2 linked regions of the Homo sapiens genome follow. The protein of the gene in region 2 purifies or fractionates together with the protein of the main gene of each other region. This does not show direct contact. Each region holds a gene or a part of one and is shown on either strand. Other genes may lie near its edges.

Region 1 (7,000 bases), on a different chromosome or scaffold from region 2:
GAAGGCCTTGCCAGCCGCAGCGTGCTGTAGGAGCTGAGCCACAGCCCCCAGGGCATGGCGCTGGGGGGCAGCCAGGGCTCCACCAGCTGCCATGGCCACAATGTCGAAGGCGTCAGGAGCCACCACAGCTGGGTTCAGGAAGCGGTAGTACAGGAGGTTCCCGACCACCTGAGGGCAAAGGAGACTCTCCCAGAAGTGTCCAGGGGCCGCCTTGACTGGTGCGGCCCCACATTCTCAGCTTGCTTGGCTGGAAGGGACACCTGGGCCAACCCCCTCACTTCAAAGAAAACAGGCCCAGAGCAGGCAGACAACTTGCTTAAGGCCACACAGCAAACCTGAGCAAGAGCTGGGACTTGAACCCAGATCTCCTGACAAGAAGCCAGTGTTGCCCACTCTGTTCGCTCACACCCCAGCATGAGCCATCTGCCACCTGAAGCCCTGCGGGTGAGCCAGGCTCCATTTATAGGGGGCAGCATATTTCCCTCCTTGGATTTTTATGGCATAGGATTTTTTGTGTTTTTGTCTCAGTCTGGGGATTGCAGGTACCAGCAAAGCAAAGGAGGGATTGGGAGGTGGGGGTGGGGAGACAACACTTGCCTTATAGACCTCGCTGTCTGTGGCGTCAGGGAATTTCTCTGCCAGAGTTGCCTTCAGGACTTTGGCCACATATCGCATCCCATACCTGGGGACAAAGAAACAGGTGCGCGTGGCTGTGCCTCTGCCCATCTCTCTCTGCCAGAGATAAGAGCTTGAGTGCCTGGCTGTCTCTTCTCCCCCAGGCTCAGCCACTCCAGAGTAGAGCTCAAGCACTGTCCCTCCACTAGCCATAGCCAGCTCCCTGCTGCCTTCCTCCAAACGTCTCTGGGCCTTGTCCCTTCCTCCTGCCTTATGTCAGTAGTCAGGACCAGGGCCCTATCATCTACTAAATCTCTCACACAGCCTCCAACCTGGCTCGAGAACCTCTTCTTTGAGACTCTCTGGGTCCCCTGCAGAGCACCCCAGCTCACCATAGCCATCCCCCATCCCCCAGAGGCACCATTAACCTAAAGCTTGGGTATCTGACACTCACAGCCAAAACCCTGTCCTAGGACAGCCTAGGTGGCTCCGAGGTAGTCAACCTTGTCAGCTGTCACAGAGCATCTGTGAGTGGCCTAGTCTGGGCTAGAGGTAGGGCCCCAAGGAGATCAGTGAGCCGGGAGGAGAAGCTCCAGTTTGGACTCCACCACCAACCAGAGATATTATCTTAGACTATTTCCTTCTCCTTTGTAAGTCTGTCCCCTGGTCTAGAAAATGGGAATGATCATTCTTGCCTTCTCTTCTCACAGGGCTTTTTGAGGATCAAGTGAAATTATGTCTGCGAGAGTAACGTATAATGGTAGAGTACTATTCAAATGTGCTAGACTGTATTATCATTATTATTCCTATTATGGATGTGCCACCTACAAATGTAATTAAATTCATTTAAAAGCAATTTCCACTCCTAGGGTACCAGAGACAGAAGTTTACAGCTCATTGTGTACTTTACTTTCTTAAGCCTAGAACAATCTTTTCTTACTCCTAATTGTAAACTCTTAATCCGGTTCTCCAGGTTTGGGGAGCAGGGTTATAAACTCTGTGGGTTCCCCCTTTCAACATCCTCATCTTGCCCTGGGCATTCCAGCCTGGGCAATGGAGTGAGACCCTGTCTTAAAAATAATAATAATAAAAAATAAAGAAAAACAAACAAAAAAAGAATGAAAGCCTGTCATTTTCGACAACATAGATGAACGTAGAGGTTCGTGTTAAGTGACATACATAAGCCAAACACAGAAGGACAAATACTGCATAATCTCACTCATATGTGGAATCTTAAAAAGGTGATTTCACAGGAGTAGAGAGTAGAATGGTGGTTACCGGAGTCTGGGGAGGGTAGGAGAAGGGGAGAGAGGATGGGGAGAGGTTGGTCAATGGGTACAAAGTTACATCCAGGTAGAAAGAATAAGTTCTGGTGCTCTATTGCACAGAAGGTGACTATAGTTGATAATAATGTGTTGTATATCTCAAAATAGCTAGAAGGATTTTGAATGTTCTCACCAAAAAGAAATAAATGTTTGAGGTAATAGATATGCTAATTACCCTGATTTGATCATTCATTGCACAATGTATACACGTATCAAAACATCACACTATACCCTATGAATATGTACAATTATCATGTGTCAAAAATAAATGTAGAAAACCAAACGTATTGACTAAATTTTAAGAAAAGAGAGAACTATAAAGTACTTTATGGGCTTAAAATATTTATTTTTGATATTGGGAACTGAAGAGTCCCATTTTCTCCTCATTTGCTCTTAGCTAATAAAGTGTCCCTGAGATCATTTTAGGGTCCCTCCTCTGGTTCCACTGACATCCTACCAGGCCACACACAGACTTGCACGCCGTCTCTCAGCTCAGCTCTCTAGCAGGAGCTTCGAGCATTCCCCACATCTCTTCAGGAACCCCTCTGAGTACCCCTGGCTCCATCTCCCTCCCTGCCTTCCTCCCTGCAGGACTATCACCCTGCTCTGCTCCCCATGGTGGCCTGGCCCTCTTGAAATCCCATGCGTAGGCTGGGGTGGGGCTGTTGCACATACGGAATTTGGTCCACAGATGAGGTGATGGCTAAAAGGAACTTATCAGTCATGGCGAGGAGGTTGCGTAGGGCGATGTCCAGTCGTCTCTGGACCTCGGGGTGGCTCAAGGCCTGCTCCGGGGTGACATCATATGGGAGATGGCTATGAGCAGAGAGAGACAAGGTGTAAGCAGGAGCCCCCTCCAATGGCCTCCTTCCCCAAGGCCCTATTCCTTAAACGCTTGTCTAACAACAAGATCTCATACAGATGTGCTAAGGACAGCTCAGCATGCTAAAGGAGAAAGGGCCAGAATGAGAGAAAGGACTGGAGAAATGCAGTCGGGAGGTAAAGAAGAGTTGGAGTATCTACAGGGAAGCTGGAAGAATGTAGGAAGGAACAGAGAACGTGGAATCTAGGGACCCTTCTAAGGGGAACAGATGACAAGCAGGCGGCTGCGCTGCAAATAGTCTTTGGGAGTTTGGAATAATGGAGAGGCTGGGCCAGAGCCTTATAGTTCCCTCACCTAAAGCCTCCTGTGCCATCCAGAGCAGCCACCAGGATTGCCTGCTCGCCTCTGTGGCTAGGTTTCCCTAGCACCTAGGGACCTGAGTAATGACCCCAGGCTATAAGGGCAACCTATCTCTCCCACTATCTCATTTGCCTATTCATCTGTAAATAGAAATATTCTTCTATACCCCTATCAATAGGAGTCCATATCCTAACTCCCAGCAAATTTTTTTTTTTTTTTTTGCGGGGGGACAGAGTCTCACTCTGTTGCCTAGAGCTGGAGTGCAGTGGTGCAATCTCGGCTCACCGCAACCTCCCAGGTTCAAGTGATTCTCTTGCCTCAGCCTCCCGAGTAGCTGGGACTGCAGGAGTGCGCCACAACACCCGGCGAATTTTTGTATTTTTTATTTTTGAGACAGAGTCTCGCTCTGTCGCCCAGCCTGGAGTGCAGTGGCACGATCTCGGCTCACTGCAAGCTCTGCCTCCCAGATTCATGACATTCTCCTGCTTCAGCCTCCCGAGTAGCTAGGACTACAGGTGCCTGCCACCACGCCCGGCTAATTTTTTGTATTTTTAGTAGAGATGGGGTTTCACCATGTTAGCCAGGATAGTCTCGATCTCCTGACCTCGTGATCCGCCTGCCTCGGTCTCCCAAAGTGCTGGGATTACAGGCGTGAGCCACCACGCCTGACCTACATTTTTAGTAGAGATAGAGTTTCACCATGTTGGCCAGGCTGGTCTCAAACTCCTGACCTCAGGTGATCTGCCCACCTTGAGCCCCCCAAAGTGCTGGGATTACAGGCGTGAGCCACTATGTCCGGCCCTACTACCACCAAATTTGACACATCATTTGCAAGCACTGACATAGCAATTAAGCACATTTGCATATTCATCTGTACTCATTTTATGTTAAGCCCACCAGGTCTGAAGTCATTTACATCAGTTTCATGTTAATTATCAGAGGGGGTCTAAAAGACTACCTTATTCATGCCTACAAAGCTGGTGTCATATTTGCATAGATCAGCATGCCCATTTATATGCCACCTTCAAAGTACACCCAAGCTTCCCCAGTAGGGTCCAAGACACAGCTGATCAAGACACAGCTGATCAAAGAGAGCTCCTCCCTCTGCCCATGTGCTCACCTGCGCTGCCCTGTCTGGGCCTCAGTCTGGTTGATCCAGTTCTTATAGAGGTGGACAGGGTCTGTGTGGACGCTGAGCACTTTGTCTTCTAGCACATCCTGGATAACCTTGCCCAGAATCTCCTGCAGGGCACTCTGTCCCCGCCCATTACGGTAGAATCTCACCACCAGCCTCACCACTGTTGGGTTGCCTGTCACCACGTCCTGGGGCTGCTCCACCTTTGACCTGTGGTTTAAGAGGTCATTGAAACCAGTCTTCTGCCTCTGTGTAGGACATACCGTTGCTTTTCCTTTTTGAGATTTTGGCTCTCAAAGCCTGCCCTGGTGTCCCCGCTCTTAAGGAATGTCTTGATATCTCTCTCATCCTTTGTGTTAGCATGTCAGCCCATATCCTCCCACTGTGCTGTCCCAGATGTTTTACGGTTTCTCCACAGGAGGTAGAGAAAAGAGGTCTTCTGATTCCATTTCTACCCTTAGGCCTCAACAAGTTGTCACCTTGTGAAGGAGCCAACAGGGGGATCTCTTAACCCATTCTCTCCCCATTCCTTTGTGTCTGGAGAGCCTACTTGATTTCCTCCTGGAGTGCTGTCTTGAACAGCTGGAGCAGGAGATAGGCCTCTCGGCGGCTGGAGGCATAGTTGTACAGGCTGAAAATCACTGCCTCCATGAACTTGGTGGTTTTGTTCTGTGGCATCTGAAAGATCAGCTTGGCCAGGTAGATGGGCTGAGTCTGCAAGCAAGAGGGGAGACAGGAATGGCTGACCATGCACTTCAAGGACCAGTGATAGGATAAGGAAAGGCTTTCCCCTGATGGAAATCTGGAATGGAGAAAGCACTACCACACTTTCTCCAGGTGCTAGTAACATTCCAGACAAACAGGGGAAGAGGTAGTCTCCTTTCCTGGGGATAAGGAATTAAGATTATGGGAAAGGACACCTTGCATGGTGCCAAACGCACAGACAAGAAGGCCTTGAAGTCTCAGACCCTCAGGAGACGGGAGAGACTTCTCCTTGGAAAGTCCTCTGCTAACCTGGAGCAGGTAGAAGAGGTGTTGGTATGCTTCTAGTTTCTGCCGTTTCTCTTTGCTCAGCGACTTTAAACCCTTCTGCTTGTCCAGAACCATCATATCTGACAGCTGTTCCTTATTCCTCTTGGTCAGCTTCTTGCAGTGGGAGACCACTTCCTGCAGGGGTGGAGGAGCGGGTGATACAACTAGCCTAGGCCATCCCAGGGCACAGAACATACGGTCTAGAATCAGTGCCTTGAAGAGCCAGGGCTTTCTGCTGTTCAAGGAACAGGCATAAGCTGGGGGACAGAAGCAGTTCTAGGGTGAGGAAGGGCCCCTCCAAGTGCCCTGAGACTCCATCTGTTTCCTCTCCTGTCATGGGAGTGAGTCCCCAAAGAGAACTGGTTTGCCAGGCTGAGGAATTGTGTCTATTTGGCTTTTGCTATCTCTTCTTATTAGACTGCTACACACATTTGAGGTGGAGCTATCACTATATCACTATTACCCTGTCACTGCATATTTATATGGTAATTTATGATTTAAACAGCTTTCATATCTGTCTCTATATTTGGCCTGGAGAGGTGGACATTCTCATTATTCTCAGTTTGCTAATGAGAAAACAGACTTAGAAGTGAAATGAGCACCCACAGCCCCATCCCTGGGAATCAGCAGAGCCAGGCATTCTGATTCTAGGTTTCATGCTCTTTCTACTCTGTCATGGGTCCCCCAAAATGATTTATTAGAATGGCAGAGGGCCACTGGAACAAGGACCTGAGTCAGGTGACAAAATCCACAACATTTTGAAAAAAATTGATTAGCAAGCAGAGAATGGTCAGCATCACATCTCCAGAGGCAGGCAGATCTCGGGGAGGGGAGGACTGGTGGGCCCCATACCTGCAGAGTGATCCGGTTCTTCACCAGCAGGCCAATCTTGATGTCCATGATGTTGAGGTCCTGCTCCAGCTGCTGATTGGATCGGATCTTCCTAACTACCTCTTCCTGGAGCTTCAGCAGCTCTGCCTCAGCCAAGAAGTCTTGCTGGCTTTGATTCAAGAGATGGGCAAATCTGCGTACCACACTGAGAGGAGGGTGGGGTGCATGCACTGGGAGGAAGGGAGGAGGCATCAGGATTAGCCATGCCTCATCAGAGGCCTCCTCACCAGCCCCTGCCCGAGTCAGCCCACCCCAGTCCCCGTTCTGCTTGGGATCAGCAGGTCCCCAACCCCAGTCCTCTTCTAACTGGTTCTGCTTGCACTTGGAGGGCAGTGGGTAGCCTTCTAGCCAGGCCTGTCCCTGAGCTTCCTGTCTTATAACTGGAGATGACATAATAGCTGCTCTTCCCATGCCTCTGATTCACCCCAGCCTGGGTCTATCCCAGGGACCTCTGACACCAAAGCCAGAGCCACAGCTCCCTCTGATTATCCTCCCAGACCTCCCTAGTCTACCCCAATCTACCACTCACTTCTGCTGGGCCAACCTGCTCCTCCTCCTCCTCCTACCTGCCAGCCACCACTCAGCCCTGCTTGCTCCCACAGTGCTCCTCTGTCAGGAATGTCTGTACACACCGGGAAGGACAGGTAGACGGGATGGACAGTGGGCTTTATAATTTAGGGGAGGTCAGAGCTAGCTGGTGATTCTCCTTGAATCACCTTTGGAATTGGCATTTGAGCAAAAAAGAAAGAAGCCTCTGAGCTAATTTATTGGAAATAACAACAAAACAACTAATACATAGAATGTTTACTATGAGACAGA
Region 2 (14,161 bases):
ATAAAATTCCAGTGTTGGGAGGCTGCGGCCCGAGAATCGCTTGAGCTCGGGAGGCAGAGGTTGCAGTCAGCCAAGATCGCACCACTGCACTCCAGCCTGGGTGACAGAGTGAAACTCCATCTTGAAACAAAAAAAAAATTCAGATGTCTCCCTGGCCTCCACCCCTCCCACCCACACATCCCGCTCTGGTGTAGGTGAGGTTCCTGACTCCTGAAATGACAGACAAGTGAAAACAGCACTGGCCCAGAAGTGAGGATTCCTAAATTCTCATCTTGGCTCTGCCTCAGAGTGCAGGATAAGCTGGGCTGGGTCTCAGCTTCATGTGCACACAAAGGGAGTGACAACTACACCCCACTCCCTGGGCCTGTCACTGTGAGAGCAAAGGGAGGTCGCAGTGTGTGGAAGCACTTTACAAAGTGATAAGACCGCTGGAAAGTCAGCTGTTATCAGTACTGCCTGTTCCAGGCTGAAAGGCGGCCCCCAGGCCAGATAAGGCAATGGTCAGACCACCCCAGCTCTGCCATGGACTCGCATACAGCCTTGGGCAAACTATTAACCCCTGTGGGCCCTCATTTTCCTAGCTCTAAGTGGAGATACAATGATCACTTGAGTGGGTTGCAGGTGGGATCACAAAGCACGCCAAGCAATGTTCAGCATATGGTAAGGGAATCGACAAATTGTGGTTACAGCTGTTTCCTAGTTCTCTTTCCTACTTACCAGCTCAGAACCACAGGGACTGGACTCCTTGAAGGCAGCAGGGCAAGTATCCCTGCAGCAAGACCAAAGGAAGGCACTCCTGGTCCCTTTTTCAAAGAACCTTAACTCTTCATTGATTTGTTTTGGTTTTGTTTTTGTTTTTGTTTGAGACAGAGTCTCGCTCTGTCACCCAGGCTGGAGTACAGTGGTGTGATCTCAGTTCACTGCAACCTCCGCCTCCCAGATTCAAGCAATTCCTGTGCCTCAGCCTCCGAGTAGCTGGGACTACAGGCGCCCACCACCACGACACCTGGCTAATTTTTGTATTTTAGCAGAGACAGGGTTTCACCATGTTGGCCAGGCTGGTCTCAAATTCCTGGCCTCAAGTGATCCATCTGCCTTGGCCTCCCTAGTGCTGGGATGACAGGTGTGAGCCATCATACCCGGGCCCAATTCTTCATTGATTGGGATTCAACCAATTCATTAGTGGAGGTAATTTGGCCTGGGAGGGGCATTTAAGTTACCTTATGCTACCCACAAAGAAGTGCTTTACTAAGCAGATGAACAGTATAAGCCAAAAAAGAATTCATGAACTACTTAGGAAAAAAAGCCAGTTTTCATCCTTTCCAAGTACTTCTTTCCTTCGAGGCTGCGTATGGATTATTTACAAATCATTCCACATATCACAGAAGATTCCCCAGACCTTTACTTCCAACTCTTTCTTCGGCTTTATATGAATTTAAAAGACATAAAACCACATTTCTTTCACATTACTGAATAATCGAGTTCAAATTTCATTCCCATTGCTTGACTTTGGACAAATAAATATTTAACCTCTAAAAACCTCTTCTATAAATGGTACCTACATCATAGGTTTCTTTTTAGTTAGTTTTTTGTTTTTTTTTTTTTTTTGAGATGGAGTTTCACTCTTGTTGCCCAGGCTGGAGTGCAATGTCGCGATTTCGGCTCACTGCAACCTCCGCCTCCCGGTTCAAGCGATTCTCCTGCCTCAGCCTCCTGAGTAGCTAGGATTACAGGCATTACAGGCATGCGCCACCACGCCAGGCTAATTATGTATTTTTAGTAGAGACGGGGTTTCTCCATGTTGGTCAGGCTGGTCTCGAACTCCCAACCTCAGGTGATCAGCCCACGTCGGCCTCCCAAAGTGCTGGGATTACAGGTGTGAGTCACTCCACCCAGCTATCATAGGTTTCTTAAATTACATTCAAATTAATATAATAATGTATGTAAATATACTAGGTATATAAATACAATAATGTATGTAAAAATTTTTAACACAATGACCAGCACATAGTAAATGCATAAACAATGCTGCTAGTATTATCTTATTGAGTTTAATCCTAATTTGGATCACTTAACCATGTGATCTTGGCCAAATCATTTAACTTTGCTGAACTTTGGTTTCCTGCTTTGTAAAAAGGAAATAACACCTACCTCATAGCCTTGTTATAAGGATGTAATCTTTTTTTTTTTTGGAGACAAAGTCTTGCTCTGTCACCTGGGCTGGAGTACAGTGGCACAATCTCAGCTCACTGCAACCTCCACCTCCCAGGTTCAAGCAATTCTCCTGCCTCAGCCTCTCGAGTAGCTGGGATTACAGGTGCGTGCCACCACCCCCAGCTAATTTTTTATACTCTTGGTAGAGGTGGGGTTTCACCACGTTGGCCAGGCTGGTCTCCAACTCATGACCTCAAGTGATCCACCTGCCTCAGCCTCCCAAAGTGCTGAGATTACAGGTATGAGCCACCGCACCCAGGCAGGATTTATCTTTTTTACCTTTAAAACAATTAGCATGGTGTCTGGCACAAATTCAGTGCTTGATAAATACATATTTGTTAGTTGAATCTGAAGTCAGACTTTTTGATCTCCTAGTTCATTCAGAAGAGTGAGGTCAAGTTTAACAAAAGAGGAAGTCTCCTCAAAAGAAGATGTAATGATGTGCCAGGCACAGTGGCTCACGCCTGTAATCCCAGTACTTTGGGAGGCCAAGGCGGGCAGATCACCTGAGGTTGGGAGTTTGAGACCAGCCTGACCAACATGGAGAAACCCCATCTATATAAAAAATACAAAATTATCTGAGCGTGGTGATGCATGCCTGCAATCCCAGCTACTCAGGAGGCTGAGGCAGGAGAATTGCTTGAACCCGGGAGGCGGAGGTTGCGGTGAGCAGAGATCACACCATTGCACTCCAGCCTGGGCAACAAGCGCAAAACTCTGTCTCAAAAAAAAAAAAGAAAGAAAAAGAAAAAAAAGATGTCATGATGCTTAATAAGAGGGTGAAACCTGAAGAGGAAGGTAATAAGAACAATGACCTATAATTTGAGCACTTACCATGAACCAGGATCTGAGCAAATAATTTTGCATAGAACACTTTATTAATCTTTATGAAAAAATATATGCTATAGGTATTATTATCCTCATGTAAAAGCCAATGTAGATATGACTTATGATCAACTATTAAGCAAACCAAGGAAATGATGGGGAGGAAGGAGGAAGAGAAGGAGACCTGCTTGTTATAACTGCTAATGCTCCAACCAATCACCTGGCCTGCTGGGAAGCCTGGTATGCACATAAAAAAATCAAACACTGAAGTTTAGGACTACAACTAGAAAAAAAAAAAAAAAAGCCAGTGTGAACTTCAGGTATTAGAGGTGATGTTCAAGGGTCCAGAAGAGACCTTTCCTCAATAATCTGCAGTAGTGTGGTCACCTGCTTACTAGAGCAATGAGTCCAGTGGTAGTAACCCCTCTCTAAAAGAATACAGAAGTCTGGAGAGGGATGAGAAGCAAGCCAAGGGTTAGAAGCTAATTCCTATGAGGGGGAAAAAAAAAAAAAGCACAAAAGAAATTGGGAGGCCAGGCACAGTGACTTAATGCCTATAATCCCAGCACTGTGGGAGGCCAAGGTGGGAGGATTGCTTGAGGCCAGGAGTTGGAGTCCAGTCTGGGCAAAATAGCGAGACCCCCATCTCTACAAAACATAAAAACAATGGTACATGCCTGTAGTACAAGCTACTCAGGAGACTGAGGTGAAAGGATTGCTTAAAACCAGGAATTCAAGGTTATCGTGAGCTATGATAGCACCATTGCACTCCAGCCTAGGTGAGAGAGCAAGACCTTGTCTCAAGATAAAATAAAATGATAAAATAAAATAAAATAAATTGAGGCATATCACCTAGAGAATATAAATCTTAGGAGGGATTTGAAAACTATCTCCAAATAGATGGAGGATATCTAGAGGATGCTGAATGGACTAGAATTTCTGAATTGAAACCCAAATACCCTCACTTTGTGGATAAGAAAATTAAGATTTAAAGAAGTGACTTGTCCGAAGTCTCATGGCCAATAATGGAAGAATTAGGGCTAATACGAAAGTCTCCTAATTCCAAATTATGTTCTTTCCACCATAACCAAGATGACAATGAGAAAACCATTATAATCTTCACCAAAAAACAAATGAAAAGATCGCTGGGGTAAAATTAAAGGAAAAACAATTCTGATTCAACAGAAGGAAAAATGTCTTCAAAGTCAGAGGGATAAAAGATCAGAATGAGTTGTCCCCTCCCCATCAGCCCTGAAAGTCTTCAGGAGAGAAGAGATAACCATCTGTTCCAGTTGGCCATTTGGGAAATTAAAATTTTAAATCATTAGTTGATTTTCCAGTCCTCACTAGTGTCATTGTGTTTCTATATCCACGTAAGTATATATTTAACTAAAATGCATTGAAATTAATGCTGCAAGTGAGTATCCACTGAGTATTATGAAAACAGAGTCAGGCTCAATTCACTAGTTTCAAAATGCATATGCCAGCTCTCATGCTCCATTTGTGGGTAAACTGGTGTCACTTTTTTGGAGAGCAACCTGGTAATAACCATTATAATTTAAAATGCACCATCCTTTAAACCCTGCTAGGAAGGCCACAGGCGAAAGAAAGCTGATATCCTCCCACCGGAAACAATCTGAAAGCCTATCAATATAGTCTTGATTAAATTAAAAGGGTACATCTGTGTGTGAGAGTCTATATAATTGTTTAAAAGAATGAGGTAGAACTGTTTGTGTTAATTTTGAAAAGATATCCAAATACTGTATATTATTAAATCCAAGTATATATTTAATAAAAGGTGGACAGTGTGTATCACACGGCTTGATTTGTATAAACTGTATACACTCATACATACACACAAACTTGTGTATCATTATATATTTTTCTGAAAGGATACATAAACACCTGTTCACAGTGGTTGTCTTTGGGAGAGGAATCAGCATGGAAAAAAAGGATTTTTATTTTTTATTATTTACTTTTAAGTAATATGTGTGTGCTTTTTTGCTTTTTTGTTTTACCATGTGCAAATATTCATTTAAGTTTTAAAAGAGAGTATGTGCTTAAAATGAGGGGGTTGGATTAGGTGATTTTTCAAGGTCCCTTCCAATTCCTATAATTTTATGTCCTAGAGGCGTTTGGTGGAGGAAACAGAGGGATACGCTGCAATGACATTGAGTCCTGCTTTACAGCTGGGGACACAGAGCATCACATGATAAAACATTTCATTGGCCCTGCCACCATTAGTGGGTTAGCATATTGGCAGACTTCATGGTGGGAAGAGGGGAAGCTGGTAAACTAAGGAGGGCTTTCCAATAATGGGAACAGAAATGAGGGCTTCCAAATATCTTAGATAGATCTTTGGGGCCAAGAAAAAAAGGCACTAACTTTTGTTAAGCATCTACTATGCTCCAAGCAGTCTGGCAGAGTAGTTGAGGAAACAGATCTGGAATCAGATTGCCTGAGTTTGAATCTTAGCTCTACTGCTGACTGCCATGTGAGACTGGGCAAGTCACCCAATCTCTATGTGTCTCAGTTTATCACTTGTAAAATGGGGGAGGTAACAATTTCTACCTCATGGTGTTGTTATGAGAATTAAAGGAGTTAATCCATATAAAGTGCCTAGGACTATGCCTGACACATGGTAGATGCTCAATATAGGTTTGCTATGATGATGACAGTGATTACTATTACCATGAGGACAACTACTCCTCCTCTTCTTCCTCCTCCTCCTCCTCCTCCAGGAAAGTGCAATAGAGACGGAGAGGTGGGGTTGTCCATACTCACCTTCAATCTGGTCGGCAGTGAAGTCTATCTGTAGGGAGGGAAATAGTAGTGAGGGCTTGGATTGCTAAAAGCAGTTGTAAAGGCCCCCCAAAGGGAAGTAGAAGCAGAAGTGGCTTCCAATGCAGTATGGCCACCTCCAGCAGGCCACTGATAAGCAGGGAAGGTGACTTGTGCTAAGGGTAAAACACAAGTCTCCTGATGAATGAGCCACAACTGACAGGCTATAAAATACCGTCGGCCCTCCTCCCCAGGTTCAACCAACTCTGGATTGAAAATATTCAGAAAACAATAAATAACCACACGAAAATAAAATATAATACAAAAAATACATAACAACTATCACATAGTATTCACATTGTACTAGGTATTATAAGTAACCTAGAGATGATTTAAATTATACAGGAGGTTGTGTGTAGATTATATGCAAATATGCAAACTTTATATAGGAGACTTGAGCATCCTCAGATTTTGGTATCCGTGGGGGTCCTGGAACTAATCCCCTACAGATAACGAGGGACAACTGTAATGCAGACTCCAAAGCTCTCTCAATACCGCTTATTAAGTGATGGCTCCAGGTAAGAGCGAAAGGGAAAGAAAAATTCCCTGGATAATTCTAGAACGTACACGGACTGCCTATTGTAATGCCTCCGGGTCTGAGGTAAATTCTTCATCCTAGCCACCCACAAACTGCCCTCACTGTTGCCCCTTCAATCTCTTCCTAGTCCATAGTCCTCTGACAAGCTGCACTTCTGCCCTCTTTGGGCACCACCACTCCCCACACTCGGACTGCTCTTTCTATTTGATTCTGATTTTAAATCCACTCCCTTCAATGAAGGCTTCCCACACCGCATCCCACTCCAACCCCTCCTTCAGCACATATCCCTCGTTAAGTACAATTTATAAGAGGCCGTTGGTTTGTACTGAGCTCCTACACTAGGACCAACAGACCAAACCAAAATAGATTCACTCATGCTGAAGTTCCATGTCACCAAGCTGAAACTAAGTTGTTCATCTGATTTTCCAAGAAATCAGGAAAATAAGAGATAATAGCCAAATCCCCAAACATGACAGTTTCAGCCAGCTTGATAAGAAAGTGCCATCTGCTTTAACCTTTACAAGAAAAGTAACTTTGCAATGAACAATTTGCATTTTGCTCTCATTTCTGCTTACCTCAGCCTTTCTTTGTCTATAATACCACCTCCTCTGCTCGGCTCATTGTTGCCAGATTCTAGACTCAAACATAAAAGCCAATTCAGATCTTTAAACTAAAATGCCTTCTAATTTTGTCTTCTGACACACTCTTAGGCACTCTGGGACAGCAAGAGCAATTGGCATGGGCCCTCCACGCTTCCTAATTGTTTCCAGTCATGCCTTTACGTGCACTCTGTCTCCTTGAAGCCACTGCTCCCTCAGGCAAGGATTCTTGTTATTGTTCACTGAAATGCTCAGTACATAGTAGGCACTGAAAAACATTTGTTGAATGAAGTAATACATTTTAGATTTCCCCCATATAATGCATAGTAATTTAATGCTGAGTACAGAAGAGGAGAGTGAATGACAATGGCCAAGCATAAGTCATCATTTTATTTTATTTTTTATTCTTATTTTTTGAGATGGAGTTTCGCACTTGTCACCCAGGCTGGAGTGCAATGGTGTGATCTTGGCTCACTGCGACCTTCGCCTCCCAAGTTCAAGCGATTCTTCTGCCTCAGTAGCTGAGATTACAGGCACCCGCCATAACGCCCAGCTAATTTTTGTATTTTTAGTAGAGACAGGGTTTCACCATGTTGGCTAGGCTGGCCTCGAACTCCTGACCTCAGGTGATCCACCTGCCTCGACCTCCCAAAGTGCTGAGATTACAGGCGTGAGCCACCACACCCAGCCCAAGTCATCATTTTGATTTAAGATCTTGTATGTTACCTCGTGGTCCTTATGCACCCCACCCCACCCCATCCCATCCCATCCCCTCTCCACTGGTGGTGGTTCCAATCCTGGAGCCTCTTCTTCAAGTGCCGTCATTCCTAGTCCTAATTCTGCTGCTGCTTGTGCTGTGCCCATCCTGTCTCATCTCCGAGAACTGACCTCCATTCATGAGGACCCAGATATGGCAGCCATGAGCTGGGGATAGGTTGGGGCAGTGGGGAGTTAACTGGGTTGGAAAGAAAACTAGTTGTGGCTAGGAATAGACTGCCAAAAGTAGGGGGTGGTCAGAAAGTTAAAGGAACCCCCTAGATGGGGTGAAGGATGCTCTGCATTCACTCTCTGAGGAAAAGGCACAGTTTGCCTTACTTTACAATGCTTTAAGAACCAGGAATAAACATGTAAGAGCAATTAATGTAAAAACTTAAAATCTCAATAGACGTGGTCCTAACTACACACACTGGGCTTAAGTTTGCTTCTGTTCTATCTTCGAATCTTTTTTATAATTTATTTATTTATTTGTAGAGACAAGGATCTTGCCATGTTGCCCAGGCTGGACTCAAATGCCTGGCCTCAAATTACCCTCCCGCCTCAGCCTCCCAAAGGGCTGGGATTATAAACATGAATCACCTCATCTGGCTTCTCTTCTGTCTTGGAGTAAAGAACCTTCTAATCAAAGGAACTGGGTAAGTATAACACAATAATAGGGAAAATGTCTCTCATAAAAGATACCTATTTTTTTTCTACTTCAAAGCAACTTCAACAACCCCCATGAAGATGCAGATATGGAAAAGAGGATTGCAACCAGGGGTGCAATTTCTCACGGGTGAGAAATTGAGAGAGGAGAGTGAATGAAAGAAGTGACAGGCCAAGGGAAGGACACCAGTTTGATGCCACTAGGCAGCTGTTGCCCAGACACCAGGGACAAGGCCTGGCAACCCACCCAAAGGCACAGTGCTTTATGGGAACAAATCAGAAATAAAGGCGAGGAGGGATCCTGAAGGGTGAAATAGTCAGCTTTTCCTGCCAGGCTCAGCTTGTAAATGGAGTGATGTATGACCTAGAAAACCTGCAGGTGTTTTCAGGGTCCTACAGTAGCCTCAGTTTCCCCAGAGTGAGCCATAACCAAGCTCAGAAAAGGGACAATTGCCTCCATCTCTTGGCTAAGCAGTTCCTGTCCCTTGCGGGGACTGGGTCTTTGGCATAATACTTGTAGGGTTATCCCGGCTGTGGGTATGAGAGGAATTCTCAGAGGGCAGGGAGGTCATACAATTAGAGCTCTGGGTTTTAATTTCCCTGCCTGCTTGTCACAGAACCTTGTCCTGTGCTCTTATTTTGACCTGATCCCTCACCACCCCCAGCCCTGTCCTAAGGCTGAGATCCCTGGGGGCTCAGCACTCCCAACCTGTTATTAATAGCTCTTCATACCAGTAGCCACTTGACCTTTTCCACTCTGGTGCCAAGGCTTAAAACTGCTCCTCTTCAGAGGTCTCTGGCCCCCTCCCTCTTCAGCCCACCCCTCTCCCACCAGTTCCATTCCTTCAGCAGCTGGGCCAGAGAGCTGGGAGGTCTAAAATGACTGAGTCAGCATGCAGGGCCCACACCAGCTCCAGGGAGAGGAATGTTTTGTGTGAGGAGAGCAGGGTGGGGCAAAGGAACCAGGCCCAGCTTCCTGACCCGGTTGGAGAGAGGGTCTCAGCCCAGGGTGGGCCAGTCCTCTGCATGCTACAGATAGGAACCCAGGCTAAGGCCACAGAAGGAAAGGCCCGTCTGGGTAAGGAAAGAGAGAGAGGAATCCGGGCTCCTCTTACCTTAACCACAACCTCCTTCCCACCCTGCCCTCACCTGCCGTAAGAGTGTTTGTGAGTGAAGCCTTTCCCAAACTGCCATGCACAGGGAGGATATTCCCTGACTGTTTATATCACTTACTCCAAGTTACACTGGCAGCTGCCATGATCTGTCTGTTCTCCATAAAGATATCCCACTACCTCCTAGGAAAAGGCTAGTCTGTTTTACTTTGCTATGGTGGTCCTCATAATGCCTTATAAAAGGGTGGATGGATGGTTGGTTGTACCTCCCCCCATTCCCAACTTAGCTGCACAAATCTAGGGTAGCAGGACAGGGCTCCCTCAAAGCAGCACCTCATTCTTGACGGAAAAGGTTTATGACTCAATCTCCCCCTCATCAGCCCCAACACCCACTCCACTGCCCCATGGGACTGCGATCTGGGGCATGGACACCCTAGTCCTCATCCCAGTCCAGCCCACATAAAGTAGATCGCTAAGCTCCAGAGCAAAAGGACTCTCAATGTCATCCCCACCTCTATCCCAATGGCTGAGCCTCACTTACCTTTACACTCTTGGGGTCAAAGGCAGGTTCCTTGGGAGCCTCAGGAGCTGGGGCAGGGGCTGGTGCAGGGGCTGGAGCTGGAGCTGGAGCTGGCTTGGCTGCCTCCTTCTTAGGCTCAGGCTTCTTGGGAGCCATGTTGTCTTGTTGGGATCTTTGGCAGAGGAGTGATCTAAGAAGAAACCGAGAGACGTGGCGTCTGGGAGATGAGATAGGAGCCTGGGCTGCCTCCCTTCCCTTTTATCCTGGGCAGGAGCCCCCACAGAGGGGCTGGGTGAAAGCAAGAGCAACTGCTGCTGACTATAAAAGGAAGAAACGCCAGCAGGGTACAGCTGACAACTGTGTATTGTCACCAGGTTTGGGGCCACCAGCCCCCTCCCCTTCATGCCACAGCTCTCTCTTCACCTCTAGGACAGGCTGATCCCTTCTTGCCAATTGGTGGAAACCCAGAAGGACCAGGGAAACAGACCTTCTCAAATATGCCGGAGCAGCCAGAGAGATGAGCTGACTTGAGCAGTTGATAAGCCTCACACAAAGCCCAGGGGAGGGTGAGGCTTTTTTTAGCCCCTCCCGAGCAGAGGCAGCCCACTGCACATTCCTTCTAAGCCAAGATCCTTTAAGCTGAGAGCCACTCTGGGCCCTCAGCTCTGCCTAGAGGCCCAACTCTCCAGGCATGGAGCTCTGAAGCAACAGCTGGTCCAGCCAACCCACACTGCCCCACACCCTCCCAACTCACAGGATGAAAGCCTCCATTTTCCAGAGCAGGCATCCCAGGAACTCCACAGACCTCAGATCCCTAGATCTACCCCCTTACACACAACCTCAGTCATTCATTCAACAAGTAGTGAGCACTGAACCCATGCCTAGGCACCTAGGAGAGAAGCAGAGAGATGTGGTAGAAAGTCGAGGAGACTGAGGGTCAGAAAACTTGGGGTTTAGTTTTCACTTTACCTCTAACTCATTCTGTGCTCTGTGTGTGTGTGTGTGTGTGTGTGTGTGTGTGTGTGTGTAGTGCTTACTACTATCAGTACCAGGAACTGTTAAGTGCTATTCATATAAAATCTCATTAAATCTTCACCATGATCCTATAAGGTAGATACTATTTTGTTTGTTTGTTTGTTTTAACAGAAACAAGGTATCGCTCTGTTGCTCAGGTTGCAGTGCAGTGGTGCAATCACAGCTCACTGCAGCCTCGTCTTTCCTGGCTCAAGCGATTCTCCCACCTCAGCCTTCCGAGTAGCTGGGACTACAGGTGCACACCAGCACACTTGGCTAATTTTGGGGGAGTTTTTTTGTTTTTTGTTTTTCAGTAGAGATGAGGTCTTGCTAAATTGCCCAGGTTGGTCTTGAACTCCTGAGCTCAAGGGATCCACTAGCCTCGGTCTTCCAAAGGGCTGGGATTATAGGCATAAGCCGCCACGCCAGGCCAGGTAGATACTATTATTATTTTCACTTTACACATGGGGAGATTGAGACTAAAACTGGATGAACAACTTGGCCAAGGTCACTCAAATAATTAGCTATAAGCTGGGATTAGATGTAGATATGTCTGAGTCTAAAGCCTATGCTTGAATAATGTATATGATAATCCAGTTGTCGGGGAGAGACATACAAGTTTCTGCATTTATTGGAGGAGTCAGGATGGATACACGCTGAACTGTTAACAGAGACACCTCTGGGGACCTAGGGGGTAAGGGTGGGAGGATAACAGCAATTTGCAGTTTTTTACTTTTTTCACTTCCTGTATTAATGGAAATTTTTATAACGAGCATTTACTGTTTATGTAAAAAAAACTTTGAAAGTCAACAAAATAATTCAGAAAAATAACAACAAAAAAGCTTATGTATCCACTACACAAAACTGCTTTGTGCTGAATCTTTAGACTCTACAGTTCAGAGGAAAAGAGGAATAAAGCTGAGAGAGGCAAAAAAATCACTTCGCCTTTCTAGGCCCAGTTTCCTCACCTGTAAAGCAAGATTGCTAGACTACAGAATCCTGGTTGCTGTTAGCTCCTAAGCCTGCAATTCTGGGTGCCCTGGAGCCCACATCTGCCCATTTCCCAGCTCTCTAACTACAGGTTCCATGCCCCAGATCATTGCCTTCAGAGCCAGAAGGACCCTTAGAGATCATCTGGCCCCATGCTGTTTTACAGGCAAGGAATCTAAGGTCCAGGGAAACGTTGAAGTTGCCTCAAGACATTCAGCTACTTATAGGCAGAGCTGGGCCAACTAATTCTGTTTCCTGGGGTGCAGTGCTCTCTGTAGCACACTGCTCTTCACTGCTCCTCCTGTAGCCTATACACGCTCACTGGTGGTGACAGAGAAGCCCTCAAAGGAAACGGGCAGGAAAAAGGGCCAGGACTTGCTCAAGGGAATACTAGAACGAGACCAGGGCCCAGATTCTAGCCCAGCCCTGGTCCTGAGCTGGGATGGTGGCTCCTTTGCTCTGTGCACCTCACCTCCTCCCCTCATCTTCTGCCTCACCTCTCTTCCTTGCCGGCTACCAAACTTGATTCCTTGTACCTTCGCTCGCACTCTTCTATAATCCCTGTCAGTCCTCTCCTTGACCTACCCCATTCCCCACAGGGGTTGGGAGTTCAGGTTGTTGGTGACGAGGAAAGAGAAAAAGTGGAAGCCCAGGCCCTCCTCCTTCTCCACCTCCACCTGCATCCCTTCCTGGACTGCATCCTGCGGAGTTTGTGCAAAAATATACAAACTGGGATTTCTGTAAAGAGCTGCAGGATAGAAGCTGGGAGACCCAGGCACTAGTCCTGACTCTGCCAGCCACTTCCTCTCTCTGGGCCTCAGCTTGCTTATTTTAAAAGGAAAAACAATCAGGAGACTTTCAAACCATGTTCAACAGAATCCTGAGACTAGCAATCTTGCTATCTTGCTTTATAGGGTGACATGCTTCTGGCTGCAGGGTACATAGAAAGGCCAGACCTTGGAGCTCCTTCCACCACCATCACTTCAGTCACCACCACTCCTGTGTTTTACATACTGGAGCTCCCAGTATGTAAAACAGTATCATTTTCTAATGGTTCCATGGCTTAAAATTTTTTTAAATAATCACTGAATGACACATGCCCCCTTCCAGTTAAAACACACACGCACACACAACAAGTTAGTATTATGTTATTGTTGTAGTTATTCTACAAAGACGTATGATCCTCAGAAGAAAAAGCTGGAAGGTTGTTCTTTCCTTTTCTTCTTTTCCTTTTTTCCCCCACCCCACTCCCCTTTCTTTTCTAAATTCTAAGAAGCAAAATATCAGGTCTGCATGGGAACAGAGCTATGAGGTTAGAAAGCTGGGAAAGCCGAATGGGGCTCCGGAGACATCCAAAATCACGCAAATACTGTGGACTCTGGAGGTAGACAGTGATGGGTCTGAAGCCTGGTTTTGCCACTTTCTAATCTAGGCCTTAGTAGCCTCAGGACCTTTGAGGATAAACATTTCCTTTTCAAATTGTCATGAGATTTGTATGAAATAATGTTAAGTAAGGCACTGCAAACAACCTCTGCCATGTAGGAAACATTCGAAGATGTTCATTTCACTTTCCTTTGCCAAGCAGGTTGAAGCTAGAGGTGCATTCAGGCTTCCCAGATTTGGAACTTCCAGAGAGAGGTCCACATGAGAAAGGGACAAGGTAAGGTGACAGTGGCTAAAGGGATTTTAAGGTGTGGGATTAGGAATGAGGAAGAGGTGGAAAGGAATGGAAGCGGGGGGAAGGGCAGCAGCTGGGAACTCATGGTGTAAAATATTTGTGGCTCAGAAAGCATGTGGCAAGTCTCTAGGGCCAGGCAGCCTGTCTGACGGAGAACACTCAGAGAAGGCATGCCCAACCACCTGAAACCTTAGGCACAGGAGCCCCAGCAGGGGAGGAGACGCTCCTCAAATCAGTTTCGGATTCGTTTTCAGCAGCCCCAGTGAAAAAAGTGCCTGGCACTTCAGAAACAACTGGAGGAGAGCTGTGGTTTCAGGGAAAGAGCCATGCATGAAGAAGCAACATATCAACCCCTGGCCTTGTTTTTACTAAAATTCATGACGCCACGCTTCATTAGAGCCCAGTAAC

Evidence for each region.
Region 1: the proteins of MYL4 (region 2) and IQGAP3 purify together in Homo sapiens (co-immunoprecipitation; 2 studies listed by BioGRID and IntAct, with this or other methods). This does not show direct contact.

What each region holds. Positions count from the first base shown.
Region 1 is NC_000001.11:156,534,566-156,541,565, forward strand, and holds part of IQGAP3 (ras GTPase-activating-like protein IQGAP3), read right to left. Parts: intron 6,352-7,000; coding exon 6,143-6,351; intron 5,426-6,142; coding exon 5,273-5,425; intron 4,973-5,272; coding exon 4,809-4,972; intron 4,469-4,808; coding exon 4,244-4,468; intron 2,757-4,243; coding exon 2,616-2,756; intron 683-2,615; coding exon 598-682; intron 169-597; coding exon 1-168.
Region 2 is NC_000017.11:47,205,489-47,219,649, reverse strand, and holds the start of MYL4 (myosin light chain 4), read right to left. Parts: upstream 10,303-14,161; 5' UTR 10,228-10,302; coding exon 10,093-10,227; intron 5,852-10,092; coding exon 5,824-5,851; coding exon of another isoform or gene 5,731-5,823; intron 1-5,730. UniProt on the Homo sapiens protein: Regulatory light chain of myosin. Does not bind calcium.